3 linked regions of the Homo sapiens genome follow. The protein of the gene in region 3 purifies or fractionates together with the protein of the main gene of each other region. This does not show direct contact. Each region holds a gene or a part of one and is shown on either strand. Other genes may lie near its edges.

The links. Proteins that work in one complex are often made in the same cells at the same time.
Region 1: the proteins of CLTB (region 3) and PICALM purify together in Homo sapiens (affinity purification with mass spectrometry; 2 studies listed by BioGRID and IntAct, with this or other methods). This does not show direct contact.
Region 2: the proteins of CLTB (region 3) and PIK3C2A purify together in Homo sapiens (affinity purification with mass spectrometry; 2 studies listed by BioGRID and IntAct, with this or other methods). This does not show direct contact.

What each region holds. Positions count from the first base shown.
Region 1 is NC_000011.10:86,059,065-86,066,090, forward strand, and holds part of PICALM (phosphatidylinositol-binding clathrin assembly protein), read right to left. Parts: intron 4,813-7,026; exon of another isoform or gene 1-4,812. UniProt on the Homo sapiens protein: Cytoplasmic adapter protein that plays a critical role in clathrin-mediated endocytosis which is important in processes such as internalization of cell receptors, synaptic transmission or removal of apoptotic cells.
Region 2 is NC_000011.10:17,162,967-17,169,992, forward strand, and holds part of PIK3C2A (phosphatidylinositol 4-phosphate 3-kinase C2 domain-containing subunit alpha), read right to left. Parts: intron 6,841-7,026; 5' UTR 6,776-6,840; coding exon 5,711-6,775; intron 1-5,710.
Region 3 is NC_000005.10:176,413,518-176,420,410, reverse strand, and holds the start of CLTB (clathrin light chain B), read left to right. Parts: upstream 1-3,871; 5' UTR 3,872-4,047; coding exon 4,048-4,234; intron 4,235-5,347; exon of another isoform or gene 5,348-5,673; coding exon of another isoform or gene 5,674-5,958; intron 5,959-6,893. Other genes in the region: ARL10 (ADP-ribosylation factor-like protein 10), read right to left, coding at 5,674-5,958. UniProt on the Homo sapiens protein: Clathrin is the major protein of the polyhedral coat of coated pits and vesicles.

The DNA of each region.
Region 1 (7,026 bases), on a different chromosome or scaffold from region 3:
AATTTGTTATGTTTTTATCAATGTTACTGACTCTATATATAAATTTGTAACCAGGCAATTTCCATAGTCACCATAAAAAATATCCTTAAATGTCTACTGGCATAGATTTTTATGTCCATAAATTGTTCATGGAATAGTCTGAGCTATGAAGGGAGGTTAAGTATAATCATTCAATATTTACTGAGCACCCATGGGGGGTTGCTGACTAGGTACTTGGAGAAGAGATAGAGAACAATACCGAAAACAATTCCTATTCTGTGGAGGAAATGTGCATAAACCCAAAATACATAAAAGCAAGATAGCCACTACAGTTTAACAATATTTGAAACTCTATAAATGGTGAGAATAATGCTGGACTGACAGGACCAGGGGGAGTTATTCAGTGATGTTTTTATGAAAGCGGTTACCTTAAATGTGAATATTAATGGGAGCAAGGTAAAGACAGTTTAAAAGAGGCCGAGCATGGTGGCTCACACTTATAATCCCAGCACTTTGGGAGGCCAAGGCCAGAAGTTCGAGACCAGCCTAGGAAAGAGACCCCTTTCTCTTTAGCAGGGCATGGTGGCACACACCTGTAGTCCTACCTACTCAGGAGGCTGAGGCAAGAGAATCCCTTGAGCCCAAGAGTTCAGAGTTACAGTAAGCCATGATCATGACACTACACTCCAGCTTGGGTGACAGAGCCAGACCCTGTCTTTAGTCCAAGGAATCATATGTGCAAAGGCTAACGGTTTGGTAGTCAAGAACTTTTGGCACAATTGATACCTAACCTGCCTAACTTTCACAAAAAAGGATAGTTTTGACATAAAAAAAAAAAAGAGAGAGGACAAATAATCAAGAGTTCCAATTAATAACTAATTTTTAAGGCCTTTGGGAAAAAAATTTAAATATTATTGTTAAGACTTTTTTGCCCCAGCAGTTTCCTTTCCAAGTCATACTGAACACTCCTTCCAATCTATTTATGGACATAAAGTGGACATAGGGATTATGATACCACATCTCTTGCTTGAAATCTTCCAAAAGTTGAGGCACTGTTACCTACAAAATCAAATCCAAAATTACTTTGAGAATTCAAAGGATCCCTTAGATCTAGTTCCTCTTTGAGTACTCTTTTGTCCCTTCTAATACACACTCATCCCTAAAGGTGCATTTTTTTAGTCTCAGAACCTTCACACTTTTAAAATTGAGGAGCCAAGAGCTTTCATGTGGGGGTTCTCTACCAATATTTACTGTTAGAAACTGAAACTGATAAATTTATCAACATTAATTCATTTGAAAAATAACAGTATTTTCAAAAAACCCCACAATTTAGAAGAGTGGCACTGTTTCACATTTTGGCAAAACTCTATTTTGTGGTTTAATAGGAAATAGTTGAATTATCATTATCTGCTACTACATTCAACCTATGGCAATATCACACACACATCACACAGCCTCTAGAAAACTCCACTGTACAGTGGTTCTTGAAAGAATAAAAATAGAAAAGGCAAATAATGTCTTAGTATATGAAAACAGTTTTGAACTCACAAACTTGCTGAAATGGTCTTGAGGACCCCCAAAAGTCCCCAGACCACACCTTAAGAACCACTGCCAGCAAAGGAGAAAGGCAATACAATGCAGCAAAGATAATCTTTTCAACAAATAGTACTGCACAACTAGATATCCACAGGCAAAAAAAAAAAAAATGAATCAGGAGACAGACATTACACTCACAAAAATTAACTCAAAATGGATCACAGACCTAAATGTAAAATGCAAAATTATAAAGCTCCCAAATGGTGACATAGAAGACAATCTAGATGACCTTGAGTTTGTTGATGACTTTTTAAATACAATGATGAAGGCATGACCCATGAAAGAAAGAACTGCTAAACTGGACTTCATTAAGATTAAAATTTTCTGCTCTGTGAAAGGCATTGTCAAGAGAATGAAAAAGACAAGGCACAGACTGGGAGAAAATATTTGCAAAAGATACATTTGATAGCCGGGCTCAGTGGCTCATGCCTGTAATCCCAACACTTTGGGAGGCTGAAGCAGGCGGATCACCTGAGATGAGGAGTTCAAGACCAGCCTGGCTAATATGGTCAAACGCCATCTCTACTAAAAATACAAAAATTAGCCAGGCATGATGGTAGACACCTGTAATCCCAGCTACTTGCGAGGCTGAGGCAGAAGAATCACTTGAACCCCTGGGAGACAGAGCTTACAGTGAGATGAGATGGCCCCATTGCACTCCAGCCCGGGAGACAGAGCAAGACTCCATCTCAAAAAAAAAAAAAAAAAAAAAAAAAGAAAAGAAAAGACACATTTGATAAAGGACTGTTATTCAAAATAAACAACTCTCAAACCTCAACAATAAGAAAACAAAGAACCTGACTTTAAGAACAGGACAATGACCTTAACGGACACCTCACTAAAGAAGATATAAAGATGGCGAGTATGCATATGAAAAAAAGTCACATAATCAGGAAAATGCAAATTAAAACAATACCACTACACACCTATTAGAATGGCCAAAACCCATTAACAGTGACAATATCAAATGCTGGTGAGAATGTGAACAGAAACTCCCATTCATTACTGGTGGGAATATAAAATGGTACCATCACTTTGAAAGACAGTTTAGAGGTTTCTTGCAAAACTAAAGGTATTCTTACCATATGATCCAGCAACTGTGTTCCTTGCTATTTACCCAAACGAACTGAAAACTTATGTCCACACAAAAGACACGCACACAGATGTTTGATGTTTATAGCAGCTTTATTCACGATTGCCAAAACTAGGGAGCAACCAAGATGTCCTTCAGTAAGTAAATGGACAAATAAACCCGGGTATATCCAGATAATAGAATAGTCAAGTGCAAAAGAAAAAAAAAAGCTGTCAAACCGTGAAAAGCCATTGAGGAAATCGTAAACGCATATTAGTACGTGAAAAAAGAAAATCTGAAAAGGCTATAGACTGTATGATTCCAACTATGACATCTTGAAAAGGCAAAACTATGGAGACAGTTAACAAAAAATAGTGGTTGCCAGTGGCTGGGGAAGAGAAGGGATGGCGAGGGGGAGCACAGAGTATTTCAGGGCAGATAAACATTGTACCGCTACAACAGTGGATATGTGCCATACAATTGGCCAAACCCATAGAACATACAAACAGCAAGAGTAAACCTTGGCCGGGCGCAGTGGCTCACGCCTGTAATCCCAACACTTTGGGAGGCCGAGGTGGGTGGATCACCTGAGGTCAGGAGCTCGAGACCAGCCTGGCCAACATGGTGAAGCCCCATCTCTATCAAAAATACAAAAATTTAGCTGGGCGTGGTGGTGGGCACCTGTAATCCCAGGTATTTGGGAGGCTGAGGCAGGAGAATCCCTTGAACCCAGGAGGCAAAGGTTGCAGTTAGCTGAGATCGCACCACTGCACTCCAGCCTGGGCAACAAGAGCGAAACTCCGTCTCAAAAAAAAAAAAACCCTAATGTAAACCATGGACTTTGGGTGGTAAAGATGTCTGAATGTAGGTCCATCAATTTTAACAAATGTACCACTTTCGTGGGGGATATAATATATCTTGATAATAATATAACTTGAGAAATCCTTCATTTTCTGATAATCTAACAAATCACAACTCTGAACATAATTTTTAATACAAAGGCTTAGGTTCATCAAGATTCTCTTTTAAAGAACTATCTAACTGCCCAAAATGATTCACATACACAGTGAACATACAAAATACTAAAAGGTCAAGTCCAAAATTTTGATTCTCTAGAGAAACGTATAAAGCAGTTTAACTGGGAACATACTAAGACAGAACACAAAGTAACGGAAATGCCACTTTAGCTACCAAAAGAACAGGAAGAGCAAATACTAAGACTTTACTTTGAAAGTCTAAGGCTACTTCTTCCTGGTAGGGCTCTAACCTCTTGCCAAGAAGCCTGTAAGTTTATTTTTCTTACTTCTTTATTTTAAGTGAGAAACCATGAAATTAACCATTTCAGAGCTGAAGAAAACAAAGGAGAAACAACTATGTCTACGGTGAACTTTCACATTAACTATTCTAAATGATTATCATGGCCAAATAAACAAATATTTTTAAATGAAAGCAATTCTGATTATTAAAATAGATTATTTTTAAACAATCAGTGTTTTTTAAACATCAAAGTAAATGTTTCATATAAATGTCTCACAAAGCGTATGAAAGAAAAATGTCAATCACATCTTATGAAGTGTTTCACTTCTCACCTGCCATAGTAACTTTAAATTCAAAGACACCTTTAAAAATTATCCAGATATATAAAATATTCAGTAAACACAAAAGGTATATAGATGCCCAAAGTCTTATACTATTTCTTAACATAGCAAATAAATCCATCAGGGAACAATAATTACAAAAGTATTTCAGAATTCATTTGCTAATTATGAATAAGCGGCTACAAAAAATAGTTGAATATTAAGTTCTCTTTAGAGTTCCTCTTTTAAAACACATACTGTTCAGAAACTTAACTAGACATATCTGGGAGGAAAAAGGATACATTTGTGAATTTTATTATATACCTCAGGCATTCTGTTCTGCCATGGCGACAGAAAAAATAAAAATAAATAAAATGCCTCAGGCATTTGACATGTGTGATCAAATCTTACTCATTACTACCACTTTGATAACTCTATTTCTATTTTCTGTATTGCAAAACTACTAAAAGACTAGTAAGGATAATGAAAAATGAAAATATAAATCATATGACTAATTCTTACAGGAAAGAATAGGAAGCCCAGACATTAATTACAAAATAACTGTCTTCTTAAAACAAGATCCTTTTGGAAAAAAAAAAAGTCCCAGTTACCTTACTTTTAAATAAAAGATATCCTGGGACAGATCTTCTACTTTATTTCTTCCTTACATGCATCTTCTTAGAAATCACATCCTAGTTACCAGATCCTTCTTGACAATACGCAAACTAAGCACCCATAAGATATTATTAACTGAGACATTAAAAACCATTTGTGCTTTAAAAGGGAATTAATTCAGGTACAGTCTGGTATGTTATACGCATTTTTAATGTAGTTACACAAACCACTAGCCCAAATACAAATTCTACATATGCAAAATATTCAAATCCTACTTTTTAAAAACTTATTTCCAATTTCTAGATCCAGTTCACAACATACAAATAACCATGCTGTATCGACCAGAGATATGTTGATAATGGATGCTTAGTAAGAACTTGATCTTGATTTTGTTTTAGAAAAGATAAGGCAGTGGTTGAAATGAAATGTCCCTGTAAATTAACTGGGGAAAATATGAATTAAAAAACAGAGACATACAGGATATGGTGACTCACACCTATAATCCCAGCACTTTAGGAGGCTCAGCTGGTAGAGAGGATCCTTGAGCCCAGGAGTTTGAGACCTGCCCGAGCAACACAAGGAGACCCTGTCTGTATAAAAATTAAAAATTAGCTGTGCGTGGTAGCAGATGCCTGTGGTCCCAGGTACTCAGAAAGATTGTCTGAACCCGGGAAGTCAAGGCTGCAGTGAGATGTGATTCCACCACTGCACTCCAGCCTGGGCAACAGAGTAAGACCCACCTCATTTTAAAAAAAAAAAAAAAAAAGGAGACATTACAGCCATTAGTATAAATATTACATTTCAGTGAAATATGTCAAAATATAAATGTCCAACGATAGTAAATAAGAATAAAGAAAATTAAGAATTCATATCAAAAAATAGGATAAGGGCCAGGCATGCTGGCTCACACCTGTAATCCCAGCACTCTGGGAGGCTGAGGCAAGAGGATTACTTGAGCCCAGGAGTTCAAGACCAGCCTGGGCCACATAGGGAGACCCCCATCTCTCCAAAAATAAAAAGTTTCTTTAATTAACCAGGCGTGGTGGCACATGCCTATAGTCCCAGCTACTTGGGAGACTGATGTGGGAGGATTTCTTGAGCCTGAGGAGGATAAGGCTGCAGTGAGCCATGATCCTGCCACTGCACACCAGAGACAGAGCAAGACCCTGTATCCAAAAAAAGGGGTGGGGTTAAGACTAAAGATTGTAAGATCAGATAAAAATGATTTTTATATTAAGAAGTTATAAATTAAAAATTGTGGGCCAGGCACAGTGGCTCACACGTCTGTAATCCCAGCCCTTTGGGAGGCCGAGGCGGGCGAATCATGTGGTCAAGAGATCCAGACCATCCTGGCCAACATGGTGAAACCCCATCTCTACTAAAAATACAAAAATTAGCTGGGTGTGGTGGCATGCGCCTGTAGTCACAGCTACTCAAGAGGCTGAGGCAGAATCTCTTGAACCTGGGAGGCAGAGGTTGCAGTGAGCCAAGATCGCACCACTGCACTCCAGCCTGGCGACAGAGCGAGACTCCGTCTCAAAAAAAAAAAAAATTTGTTTTTTCTATCCTGCAATAATTATGGTTCTTTTAAGCATTCTGTACTGCTAAATGGAATTAGAAGCTACTTTCTATGTATATGAATTGCCCCCACCTCCAGCTGTGAGACAGGATTAAATGAGATGATGAGAAAGTGCCTGGAAAACTGAAGTTCTTCAAATATAAGGGCTGCTATTCCTCTACCTTGATTATGGCTACTAAAGGCCTAAGATTAAACGGAAATCGTGTTTATTTTTACAAACATATTTCAAGTTTGACAACTCTTTCACACTAGGGATGCTAGTCAACACTATTATCCACTAACACCTACAGTATAAGCAAAGCAAAAAAATCTTTCTTCAGTAAGTATATAATGTAGTATGAATTAAGCCATAATTCATGAATTATTAATAATCACTTCCTAATGTGGAAAGATCTTGGCGAGAAACTGACAGAAACCACCTCCACACTCTAAGGGCTTATACGAAAAACAACAGTCCTAAGCATATTTTTTGTTAAATGCTGCCATTTTAAAATGAAATCATTTTCATTAGATTCATATAAATAAGCATCAGTTGCTAGGGGCATTAAAAGGTGCACATAAACTAAGCTTTCACTATAAAGAAAAATTCCTAAAAGACAAAAAATTAC
Region 2 (7,026 bases), on a different chromosome or scaffold from region 3:
CTACTAAACTGAATTCTCAATTCACAGAAAAAAATATATAAACAAATAGGACTTGTTTGGCCAGGCACGGTGGCCACGCCTATAATCCCAGCACTTGGGGGGACTGAGGCGGGTGGATCACTTGAGGTCAGGAGCTCGAGACCAGCCTAGTCAACATGGTGTAACCCCAACTCTACTAAAAATACAAAAATTAGCAGGGCATGGTGGCATGCACCTGTAGTCCCAGCTACTCGGGAAGCTGAGCCAGGAGAATCACTTGAACCTGGGAGGTGGAGGTTGCAGTGTGCCGAGATCACGCCACTGCACTCCAGAGCCTGGGTGACAGAGCGAGACCCTGTTTCAAAAAAACAAACAAAAACAAACAAACAAATAGGACTTGTTTAATTTTAAGTTTTTCTATGCAATGTATTTTAACTTTCAGCCCTTACTATCAGTTATTCCTTTGTTTTTTAGACACAGGGTCTCATTCTGTAGCCTTGGCTGGAGTACAAGGGCCTTATCATCATAGCTCATTGCAGCCTCAAACTCCTGGGCTTGAGATCCTCCTACTGCAGCTTCTTGAGTAGCTGGGACTACAGAATAGCTGTAGTCCCAGCGTGCATCACCACACACAGCTATTTTTTTTTTCTATAGACACGGGTCTCCCTACATTCCCCAGATTGGTCTCGAATTCTTGGCCTCAAGCAATCCTCCCACCTCGGCCTCCCAAAGCACTGGGTTTACAGGCATGAGCCACCAAACCCACCATTCTACCAGTTGTTTCTATTATAATCTAGCACAGATTGTCATCTAATGTAACACAAAGTAGTATACTTAATATATTTAACGTACTGAAAAAATTAGTATATCAACATTTCATCCTGTTTTATAAGAGCACCATGACTTTCAGGTATTCTACTTCCTGAATTGGTTTGAAAATGTATGTCCAAAATACAAAACCTTAAAAAAAAAAAAAAAGTCCACTTCCTCTTCCACATGGCAACTTCCCAAATTTTAACTATTATTTATGAAAGGATCTAGTCTAGCCAACTTTATTTCATAGATAAAGAAACTCAGATTCAGTGATTTAACTCCAATTAATATTCTCTTCTTCAGACAAAATGCCTCCAACAGTTCCTCAAATGGCATACGTTCTAGATCCTGAAAACTACAGTCTTCTCTTTTCAAGACATACTCTAGGCTGGGCACAATGGCTTACACCACAGGGAGACCTCATCTTCACAAAACCCAAAAAAATTAGCTGGGTGTGGTGGCGTGTACCTATAGTCCCAGCCACTCAGGAGGCTGCATTAGAAGAATCACTTGAGTATGGGAGGTAGAGGCTACAGTGAGCCGTGATCGCACTGCTGCACTCCACCCTAGGTAAAACAGTGTGAGACCCTGTCTTAAAAAAAAAAAAAAAAAAGACAAACTTCAGTTTCCTTACTGGTGGCCCCTCTTAGGATATACTCAAACAAAATTATTAGATGGGGTTTGATTAGAGTATAATGGAATGATGAACACTTCCTCAGCCATGCTGCAGTTAGACTGCCTTAAGACTGGCAAGTAGCCTAAGCCATGTCAGTTCAGATAGCATGCTATCAGTAAAGCTGTTGATATGCTACACTGTAGTAATCTAGCTCCACTCTCTGATTGATCCCCTGATCAAGTCATATTATTGCTTACCCAGTTTCTGACTCATATCTCTCATAATCCATTTGCTTACTACTTTAATCCTTCCCCTATATTTTTTAACTAAGATCTAGGAACTTGTTTCTGCTAAAACTAATCCTGTTTGGCAGCCTAGTTAATTAATTCCTAGAGTTTGAGCAACTAGCAGCTCTCTGTAACACCTATGTGACTTGATTACCCAGATCTTGCTAGGCAAACTTCTTCCTATCTTTAGGAAACCACCCATCCTCATTATTCCTCCAAGATACTTTCTGAAAGCACCCCAAATAAGGAAAATATCAAGATGGTACTGTGACAAATATTTTAAATACATAAGAAAAAATAAATGTAGGGAGACTTACATGGGTGTCACACCCCTGCCCCACCAAAGGAAAGGGTGGAGAACACATGTGTTGAACTAGGAGTGACCAATCTAAACTAAAAAGGTCAAGCAGGGGCAGGAAGTTGAGTTTCGCAATGAAAGCATTAACAACCTGTGCTTTGGGTTTTGAGCTGAAAAGAAACTGTTCCCAGGGTACTCTATTTTCACATTTGCTATTTGTCTTGTCATTTTCCCAACTTTATAGGCTCCTGAGTATGAATAAACTTTAAAATAACCTAGTCAAGAGGTCCCAAATGGAGGTCCAAGGGGGAAAGTTTTGAAAAAACTGGTTATCTTCCCCCTGAAATTCCATACTGTCCTTTGACACCCCTTCCTCCAAATCAGGACTGAGTAGGCCTAAACTCTCTAGGATACTGTGACATATAACTAAATTTGGGAAGCCATTTGAACCATATTTGAATATCTCCTATGACAGGGAACTTACTCCTTCCAAAATAGCATGTTGTATCACTGGAGTTTGAAAAAGGGAGGGCTGGCAGACCTTGGTGGCTCACGCCTGTAATCCCAGCACGTTGGAAGGCTGAGGCAGGCAGATCACCTGAGGTCGGGAGTTTGAGACCAATCTGACCAACATGGAGAAACCGCGTCTCTACTAAAAATACAAAATTAGCCGGTCGTGGTGGTGCATGACTGTAATCCCAGCTACTCGGGAGGCTGAGGCAATAGAATCGCTTGAACCCAGCAGGCAGAGGTTGCGGTGAGCTGAGATCACGCAATTGCACTCCAGCCTGGGCAACAAGAGAGAAACTGTCTCAAAAAAGTGAAAAAAAAAAAAAAAAAAAAAAAAAAGGGAGGGCTTTTAGAGTCAGATGGGTTTGAATGTCAGAACTTTGCTGCTTGCAAAGAGTTCTGCAGCCCTCTCCTTGACCTCCAACTTGTTATCATGAAAATTTTCAAATATACACAAAGTAAATAATAGAATAAACACCCAGGTATCCATCATCGGCTTCAACAATTATCAACATATAGCCAATCTTGTTTCATCTATAAGCCCTCCAAACCCCAATACCTCACTTGATTTTACTACATTTTAAATTCTACAGTATACATCTCTAAATATAAGATTCATTTAATTAATTGCAATACCATTATTACACCAAAATATTAACAGTAATTCCTTTTAACTTCTTTACATCTCAGTTTCCTCAACTGTAAAATAGGGATGGGTCATACTCTGGCCTCATAGGATTCTTGTGAGCTTTCTGTCTCAGTGATTAAAAAAAAAATGCAGAAGAGTCCTTTGGCTTTGGCAACATATTGGTAAAAATAATAATAAATAAAGAGTTCGGTTTGAGTATGTACAACATAGATAAAAAGCATGTAAGTTCTTGGGTTCCGAATCCCAGTCTTGGAGCTTTGGACAGTAAATAACCCACCTACCCAGAAACCTCAACTTGCTTAAGATGATGACTACATTGCATCTGGAATGGTAATATCAGCTTAGCTGGGATAATCTATTTCTCTCAGTAGGTAAATGACTTTTCAATAATGGGAAGTTCAGAATTTAAGATATAATTAAATTAATCAAGGTAATTTATAAACATCTGTATTAACTTCAAGACAATCTATTGTAGCTACAATGCATTCATTGTGGGGCTCTGCCTTCTACCAGTGCAAGGCTTGAGCCTAAGCGCAGCTCCCTACAAGACAAGGGGCTTCCTTTTCTTTGATAGCAAGACTAACTTATCAGAGCCCCAATGTCTGTCTCCAGGTTCAAGGCAGTTGCCCTTCCCAAACAACTATAAACAGCTGACATCTTAAATCCAGACTACATCTCAAATCCTGACTCCAGGCACTAAACACAGAATTCATTTCTCTCATGAGAAACCTATAAAATAGAGACCCACAGCTGGGGAGTCATCTGCCTATTAGAAATTGACCCGAATATGAATCCAGCAGTGACCTGGGCCCTGCAGGATGGGAAAATTAGGGGGACCAGTGCCTTCCCCCCAACTGCCCCTTTTTTTTTGAGATAGAGTCTTGCTCTGTCGCCCAGGCTGGAGTACAGTGGTACAATCATGGGTCACAGCAGTCTCAACCTCCTGGTCTCACACGATCCTCCCACCTCAGCCTCCCAAGTAGCTGGGACCACAGGAGTATGCCATCACGCCCAGCTAATTTTTTTGTAATTGTGTTAGAGACAGGTTCTCATTATGTTGCCCAGGCTGGTCTCAAACTCCTGGGCTCAAGTGATTCTCCCACCGTAGTCTTCCAAAGTGCTGGGATTATAAACATGAGCCATCATGCTGTCTAAACCTTCTTAACACCGATTTCTCTTCCTTCCAGACATCCAAAATGTTTTTTTTTTAAGTCAACAATTTGGCCGGGCATGGTGGCTCACGCCTGTAATCCCAGCATACTGGGAGGCCAAGGTGGGCTGATCACCTGAGGTCGGGAGTTCGAGACCAGCCTGACTAACATGGAGAAACCCGGTTTCTACTAAAAATACAAAACCAGCCAGTGTAGTGGCACATGCCTGTAATCCCAGCTACTTAGGAAGCTGAGGCAGGAGAATCGCTTGAACCTGGGAGGTGGAGGTTGCAGTGAGCCAAGACTGCACCACTGCACTCCACCCTGGGCAACAAGAGCAAAACTTCATCTCAAAATAATAATAGTAATAAATAAAGTCAACAATTCAACATAAACCGATCCAAATCATGCAAAATCCATCCCTCCCTTCCCCATCTAAATGCTAGTTAACTCCCAATGATAAAATAGTAGGTAAGTGCTGATCTAATTAGCTGAATATTAATTCACGTTAAAGTGAGAATGAGGCTTAAACATTCCCAGGATACACAGATATAAAAGCAAAACACAAATCTGCAATGGTAATATTTCATTCTTCACTTTTATCGACAAAAGTGTTTAAAGGGAGAGTCCTTTAAATTGCTCTTCTCTCTGGGGTTATTTATTCATTGATTCATGGTTAAAAACAACAAAACAAAATGCGTGAGAATTTCTATAATGGGGCTAAAAACCAAAATTTCTTATTTGCATTTAAAAAAAAACAGGAATAAGGAAGAGAAAGAAGGGAGCATATGTAATGAGGAGACATGGACAGACAAATTTAAAATATCTTAAATGCCTCTCAGTGACAGCCAGTTCCTTCATTAGAGGCTTTTTATTTACAATCCTAGAAAAATATTAATAGCAAGCAATTTTTCAATTGGCCTAATCACATTTCATCCTTTGCCACACAAGCAAAGAATCAAAGCACACTTGAGAGCAAAGAAAAACAAAATTCAAAGTGAAAAATATTTTTTTTTCTTAACAAATTATGGGCTGGGCGCAGTGGCTCACGCCTGTAATCTCAGCACTTTGGGAGGCTGAGACGGGTGGATCACGAGGTCAGGAGATCGAGACCATTCTTGCTAACACAGTGAAACCCCGTCTCTATTAAAAATACACAAAATTAGCCGGGTGTGGTGGCGGGTGCCTGTAGTCCCAGCCACTCGGGAGGCTGAGGCAGGAGAAGGGTGTGAACCTGGGAGGCGGAGCTTGCAGTGAGCCGAAATCACGCCACTGCACTCCAGCCTGGGCGACAGAGCGAGACTCCTTCTTAAAAACAAAAACAAAAACAAAAAAACACAAATTATGTACACAAATATGAACTCTGTGTTATACTAAGTTTGAGAAGTTAGTAAGAAAAGACTATACCTGAGATATATGGCCCTGGGCTTTTGCAAGCTGAGTTGTTCGAATATTTAAAGACTGGCTTCTTGTAACAGTTGCCACAGAAAGGGATTTTCCATTCACCTTTCTTTCAAGATGACAATTTGCTGTCGATCTCTCTTCAAGAAGAACAGCATCCCAAGGATCCTTTGCTAGCAAACTTGAAACATTTTTCTCTTCCTCATGGTCTAATACCTCCACATTATCCACCTTAGGCTTACTTAGAGGATCCAAGTCTAACCAGTCAAATTTACTGATATCCTCAGACTTTGGAGATACCTGTAGATTGCTGACTTTTGAATCTGTTATCTCCAAATCAGTCCTTGCTTTCCCATTTTTTAAAAATTCTGATGTACTAGCTATTTTGTCAAATAGTTTTGCCATGTCAGTACTGACTACTGGACGATAGATAGGTAAGCTTCCTTGTGGATGAAAGGGTGTGGCAGGTGTCAAAGGATATGAGAAATATGGAGATTGTCCCGGAAGACTTAAATATATAGGTTCTGTAGATGGAAAAGTGGGCATTCTTGGATTGAAGCCATTTTGGAATGCAGCCTGTTTACTGTAAGTAGAAGGATAAATAGAAGGTAAAGCATAAGTGGAAGGCCCAGGTAATCCAGGTGGCCACTGTCCTCTCTGAATAGTAGGTCTAAAATAGAGCTGTGCTGAAAAGGAAGGGCTCAGAATAGGAGTAACTGGTAATACAGGTGTTTTTTTAGTCTCGAAACTGTCATCCAGCAATAGTTTCTCAAGTTCAGCTTGGGTGAGCTTTTCTACATCAATATCTAATGCTCTTTTTTGGGAATCTGATTCAGGAAACACCATGAGATCATAATCCTGCTTGTTATAAACCTGTGCTTTTTTTCTGGTGCTGCTTGACAACTCAAAGCCTCTCTGATTGTCAGTCACTTGTCTATCCTTTTGCAGTTTTGCTAAAGCCTCTGCTTCCATCTGTAATGCTTCTTCTTTGTCCACATCTTTTGCTCTTGTTGGTTCCGGATGTGAAGATGGACATTCTTTAAATCCGCTGTTGCTAGATATCTGAGCCATGTCCACTAAAAAGACCAAACCTTCCTTCCTCTATTTTTTTCTTGTAGCTTCCAAAATAGCAAGGCCTATACATAAAAATAAACATAACACTCAATTAGATTTCTAAACATAAATATATTTTGTTTGCAACCTACCCCATATGACTTTGGACTTTAAGCCACTTAGAAAAATATACTACAAAATAAACAAAATAAAACAGATAAAATCTGGGTGAAGGAACACTTAACACCTTATACACTGTTGGGTTACAG
Region 3 (6,893 bases):
TAAAGGCAAAATGAGGAAGGCTACGTAAGTTGTTTTGAAAAAATTATCCTTGGCTACAAGGATTGATAACAAGGGTAGCATTATTCCAAGATTGAACAGGCAATTGCTGGGCAGGTGTCATTGCAGAAATATTCTTCGTGCATGGGTGTGACGGCCTTTGTGCAAGATTGTGGTTTCAGACAATCCTTGTTTTTTGTTGTTGTTGTTGTTGGGTTTTTTTTTTTTTCTTGAGACGGAGTTTTGCTCTTGTTGCCCAGGCTGGAGTACAATGGGGCAATCTCGGCTCACTGCAACCTCTGCCTCCCAGGTTCAAGCAATTCTTCTGCCTTAGCCTCCTGAGTAGCTGGGATTACAGGTGTGTGCCACCACACCCAGCTAATTTTGTATTTTTAGTAGAGACGGGGTTTCATCATGTTAGGTTGGTCTTGAACTCCAGACCTCAGGTGATCCGCCCATCTCAGCATCCCAAAGTGTTGGGATTACAGGCATGAGCCACCGTGCCCAGCCTCAGACAGTCCTTGTAATATTTTCTATCATAGGCATGTGTGCATGGGAGCCCCTCATTTATGGCCTCCTGAGTCCATTTTGCTAGGGTTTGGCATAAGTGACTCCAGTTTGATTTGGACAACTTGTGCAGAAGGATGCCCACTTTTGGTATTTCTATTCAACATAGTACTGGAAGTCCTAGCCAGAGAAATTAGGCAAGAAAAAGAAATAAAAGCAACCCAGATTGGAAAGTAAGAAGTATCTCTGTTTGCAGATGCTATTTATTTATTTAGAGACAGGGTCTCACTCTCATTGCCCAGGCTGGAGCGCAGTGGTGTGATTGTTATAGGACAGGGGTCCCAATCCAGACCCCAAGAGAGGGTTCTTGGATCTCACGCAAGAAAGAATTCAGGGTGAGTCCTTGGTGCAAAGCGAAAACAAGTTTATTAAGAAAGTAAAGGAGGGGCCGGGCACGGTGGCTCACGCCTGTAATCCCAGCACTTTGGCAGGCCGAGGTGGACAGATCATGAAGTCAAGAGATCGAGACCATCCTGGCTAACAGGGTGAAACCCCGTCTCTACTAAAAATACAAAAAAAAAAAAAATTAGCTGAGCATGGTGGCAGGCTCCTGTAGTCCCAGCTACTTGGGAGGCTGAGGCAGGAGAATGGCGTGAACCCGGGAGGTGGAGCTTGCAGTGAGCCGAGATCGCACCACTGCACTCCAGCCTGGGCAACAGAGCGAGACTCCACCTCAAAAAAAGAAAAAGAAAGTAAAGGAATAGAAGAATGGCTACTCCATAGACAGAGCAGCCCCAAGGACTGCTGGTTGCATATTTTCATGGCCATTTCTTGATGAAATGCTAAACAAGGGGTGGATTATTCGTGCCTTCCCTTTTTAGACCGTATAGGGTAACTTCCTGATGTTGCCATGGCATTTGTAAACTGTCCTGGCACTGGTGGGAGTGAGGATGACCAGAGGTCACTCTTGTCACCATTTTGGTTTTGGTGGGTTTTGGCTGGCTCCTTTACTGCAACCTGGTTTTTGTTGTTGTTGTTTGTTGGTTTGTTTGTTTTTTGAGACTGAGTCTTGCACTGTCACCCAGGCTGGAGTGCAGTGGTGAGATCTCGGCTCACTGTAACCTCCGCCTCCCGGGTTCAAGCAATTCTCCTGCCTCAGCCTCCCAAGTAGCTGGGATTACAGGCACCTGCCACCATGCCCAGCTAATTTTTTGTATTTTTAGTAGAGACGGGGTTTCACTATATTGACCAGGCTGGTCGCAAACTCCTGACCTCACAATCCGCCCACCTTGGCCTCCCAAAGTGCTGGGATTACAGGCGTGGGCCACCTTGCCCAACACTGCAAACTGTGTTATCAGCAAGGTCTTTATGACTTGTATTTTGTGCTGACCTCCTATCTCATCCTGTGATTTAGAATGCCCTAACCGTCTGGGAATGCAGCCCAGTAGGTTTCAGCCTCATTTTACCCAGATCCTGTTTACGACGGACTTGCTCTGATTCACACACCTCTGACACAATCATAGCTCACTGCAACCTTGACTTCCCGGGCTCAGGTGATTCCCTCACCTCGGCCTCCTGAGTAACTGGGACTACGGGCACCATACCACCATGTCTGGCTAATTTTTTGTAGTTTTAGTAGTGATGGGGTTTTGCCACGTTGTCCAGACTGGTCTCAAACTCCTGGGCTCAATCTATCCACCCACTTCCACCTCCCAAAGTGCTGGGATTACAGGTATGAGCCATGGCACCTGGCTAATAAGCTCTTATCTGCAGAAAACCCTAAATATTCCACACACAAAAAATGTTAGAGCTAATAAATGAATTCAGCAAAGCAGCAGGATACAAAGCCAATGCACAAAAATCAGTTAAATTTCTATGCATTAACAATACGCAATCAAAAAAGAAGATAAAACTTCCACTTACAATAACATCAAAAAGGCCAGGTGTGTTGGCTCATGCCTGTAATCCCAGCTCTTTGGAAGTCTGAGGATGAGAGGATCACTTGAGCCCAGGAGTTGAAGCTGTAGTGAACTATAATCGTACCACTACACTCTAGCCTGGGCAAGAGTAAGATCCTGTCTCAAAACAAAAAACAAACAAACAACAACAACAAAACCATGCAAATGGACAGCAATAAATAAATACATTAATTTAATTAAATAAAACAATAAAAACCCCCCCAAAAACAGTAACATCAAAAGGTGCTCAAGTTGTTACCAATTAAACTGAAAGTTCCAGCTGGGCTTGGTAGCTCACACATGTAATCCCAGTGTTTTGGGAGACCAAGGCAGGAGGATCCCCTGAGGCCAGCAGTTCAAGACCAGCCCAGTTAATATAGCGAGGCCCTGTCTCTAAATAAAAAAATTAAAAAGAAAAAAAAAAAAACACCTGGAAGGTCCCTTCACCCCAACTCCACTTCCACCCCCAACTTGGCGGCACATCTTTCCTTTCGCTCTTCCAGTCCATATTTCATAGTTGCCTTTCAAGTCCCACATTAGAAATAGCAGACAGCCCAAATCCCATGGTGTTTCTTTGCATCGTCTCCCTATACCCCGTGTTTAAATGTCACAGCGCCTCACACACAGTGCTTTGACAGGCCATTTGCCATCTGTTGGTCTCACCGGATTGTAATCTCCGCATGGCCATGGCTGGATTTTATAAAACGTTGCTGTCCTGGTGCTTGGCAAAGCGCAGGCAGGGAGGAGGCATTCAGAGCCTGTTCACAGAGGGCAGCGGGCAGCGTGGAGAGTGGTAGGCTGCCTGGGTAAACCAGGTCTGCCTTTCTCAGGCTGGTTCATACCTAAAGGACATTTAAGGGGCCTAGCTGGCCATCCAAACTCTGGTCGTATGAACTGAAGCCTCCTCAAGGGAGATACACAAAAAAATACACAAAACAACACGGCCTAGTGGGAAAGGACCTGGACTTGCATGAAAAGGTGCGGGGCAGCCTTTCCCAGCCTCAATTTTCCTCTTCTTACAGAGGCGGAGGCTCATAGAATGAGGTGCATGACATCCCAACCTAGGAGAAGAAACTTCTGCAGAATGAATCAGGAGCCAGGTCTGCGCTCCCGAGGCCAGAGGTGGCCTCCTGTCGCAGCTCTGTGCACGGTACGGCCACTCTGTGCCCTGCGTTTCGCCTCCAGGCCGGGCGGGAGCAGTGCCTAGCCCAGGTGTCCTCGACGCGAGCAGCTGGGCGCCGCTGCGGAGGGAGGGAAGCGCCGCGCCGGTCCCGGGCCCAGCGCTGCGCCCAGTCCTGAGGCGCCCTCCTGCGGCCGCTGCTCGGCGACCTCCCGGCCCTGCGGCCCCGCCCCCGCGGTGACGTCACCGCATTCCGGCTCCGCTCCTCCCGCCGCGGCGCCCGCACCGCAGTGACAGCCAGCCGGGCCCGGTGGCGGAGAGGAAGTGCGGTCCGCGCCAAGCCCGTCCCCGCCGACGCCGGCTCCCCCGCGGCTCGGGTGACAGCGTCGCGGCCGCCGGACGCAGCGCGGGGCAGGCGCGGGCAGAGCCGAGCGCAGCGGAGGCTCCGGCGGAGGCGCGGGGAAAATGGCTGATGACTTTGGCTTCTTCTCGTCGTCGGAGAGCGGTGCCCCGGAGGCGGCGGAGGAGGACCCGGCGGCCGCCTTCCTGGCCCAGCAGGAGAGCGAGATTGCAGGCATAGAGAACGACGAGGGCTTCGGGGCACCTGCCGGCAGCCATGCGGCCCCCGCGCAGCCGGGCCCCACGAGTGGGGGTGAGTCAGCGCGGGGCCTGGAGAGGGGCTCAGGGCGCGCACCCGGGGGACCCCGGCCGGGGCCCAGGGGCACAGGGAAGAGAGCCTGCTCTAGGCCACCCGGGGCAGGAGCTGGGAGACGTGGGGAAGAATCTTCTTGGAGATCTCCATGTAGGACTTCCGAGCTGGGGATGAGGCCTCGCCTGGGGCTGTGGATCTGGTGACTCCCGGGACAGGAATTCGGTCATGACATTTCATCCCCAGGCCAGCTTCCCCACTGCCCGGCTCTGGAATCCAACCCCACCTCAGTTTTGAGAGTCCCTCCTGAGCCTCCTAATAGCCTGGGTGTCCCAGGCTCCCAGCTAAGTGTGCAGGTGTGGGCAGAACACAGCCCTCCTGGCCCCTCAGGCTTAGCTCTCTCCTGCAGCTGGGAAAAAAGAGGATCCTGGGTGCTCCAGGAACTCACTAACCTTCCCCGGTGACCGCCTGGCATTCGGCAGTCGCTGGGCTAAGCGCCTTGGTTACATTTAATCACTTCATACACGTGATTGAACCCATTTCAGAGATGGTAAAACTGAGGCTCAAGGGAGTATGCTATTGAAATAACTAGTAAGTGGCAGATCAAGAATTTAAACCTGTTTCTTTTTCTTTTACATATATATTTTTTCTTTTCCTTTTTTTGAGATGGGGTCTCGCTATGTTGCCCAGACTGGTCTTGAGCTCCTGGGCTCAAGCAATCCTCCCACCTCTGCCTCCTAAAGTGTTGGGATTACAGGTGTGAGTCACCACACCTGGCCGTGAATTTAAACCTGTTCCTGTCGGACTTGAAGCCCTCTCCACCTGACCACACTGCCTACCAAGTGTCTGGCTCTGAGTTAGACACCGGAGTGTGGGCCACAAAGAGGCATCAGTCAGATGCGGTAGGGCCCTTCAGGGTTTTGTAGTTGTCGACTTAATGGTTTTCCAAAGGTGGTCCGGGGCTATTATGATTTACTGTGATTGGCTTCAGACCTCAGTGTTCAGGGCCTAGTCCCTGTGAAATCATCTTTATCAATGATGTTTCTGCCCTGGTTCTGGCTAGCAAGAATGATTTTGTAAAATATTTAGTAAAAAAGTAGATATCACCTTCATGGGTACATCCAAAACAGGTTTTACTTCCTGTTGATGTCATTTTGGAAAGGTTTATGGGCCTGTTGTAGTAAGTGCTAACATATATACATATAGACATATTTTGGTTAATGATGTTTACAAGGCTCTTCACAGTCATGTTTGTATCCATTCAACGTTTACTGAGCACCTACTGTGTGTCAGGACGCTGGGGATACAGAAATGAATAAGACAGTTCCTGTGGCTGAGGAGTTTGAAGCAACTCTGTATCTCCTTGATATGAGAAATGTAACCAGGCTTTTGTAACATGCAAGAAACCGGTGGCCCAGAGAATCTGAGTATCTTGCCCAGAGTCACACAGCCAGGAATGACCAATCTAGGACTTGATCCCACGCCTCCCAACTCTGGGCTCCATGCTCTTTCAAATGCTGTGGAGCCTGGGCAACATGGTGAAACCCCATCTCTACAAAACATACAAAAATTAGCCAGGCATGGTGGCATGTAGCTGTAGTTGTAGTTCCAGCTGCTCGGGAAGGCTGAGGCAGGAGCATAGCTTGAGCCCGGGAGGTGTAGGTAGGTCGCCGTGTGCTGTGATCACGTCTCTGTACTCCAGCCTGGGCAGCAGAGTGAGACCCTGTCTCAAAAAAAAAAAAAAAAAGATTCTATAGCAGTCACCTCCCTGGCAGGAGATAGGATGTGGGGTGAGAAGCATGGGGTCTTTTGCCACCTATCTGAGACAGCAATGGAGGGCTTCTGAAGTGGAAGCTTCCAGCACCTCAATACAGAATCTGCCGTGTCCCAGGGAATTCCTAAGAAATGCCTGCCCCAGTTAATGCACCAGTATTCACTGGACCACACCTCTGTGAGACCACCCTTTTCCTCAGTCTGGCTCACTGGGGCCTGTTGGGGTCGGGGTGCAGGGAAGAGGAGGGAGGCCTTGTGGGGAGGTCCTGCTGAGGGGAGCCATTGTGAGAACCTCAGGAGAGAAAAGATGGGATTCAGGCTGAGGGCAGCCAGATGCCTGAGGGAGCTGAGCAGGTTGTGGCCTCTCCCAGGATGGTGGGGCTCCAGGGACTTACAGTCTGGATGGCAAGTTCTGTCCTTGGCAGGGGTGGGGCACAAATTGGCCTCAGACCAGAGGTGACAGGGAGAGAAACAATGACACGCTCGCTTCTTCCAGGGAGGTGCCGGGGATACAGCCTTCTGAGGGTCTCCCAGGCGCATACCTGCTGACTCTGCAAAGGCTCAGCTGCCCTCCTTAGTTGGATCGGGGAGCAGGGAGGTGTTGAGGGATGGCGGCTCAGTGGATGGCCAGATGGGCTAGAATTGATCTGACCTTCTCAGCCTATGCAGTGCTGAACAGGTAATCTTCCCCTGACCAGGGATGTGTGCCAGGAGCCTGGATGGGGCAGAGAAAAAGCGCCCTGGCCTGCTGAGAGCTGGGCAAAAGCTGGCTTAGCAGCGGCCGCCAGTCAGTACCTCTGAGGCACCTTCTCTTAGATGTTGGGGTCCTCAGATTAGCAATCTCTGTGCTGACACTGGGCTCAGTTGCCCCTGGGGAAAGAGGTATCTG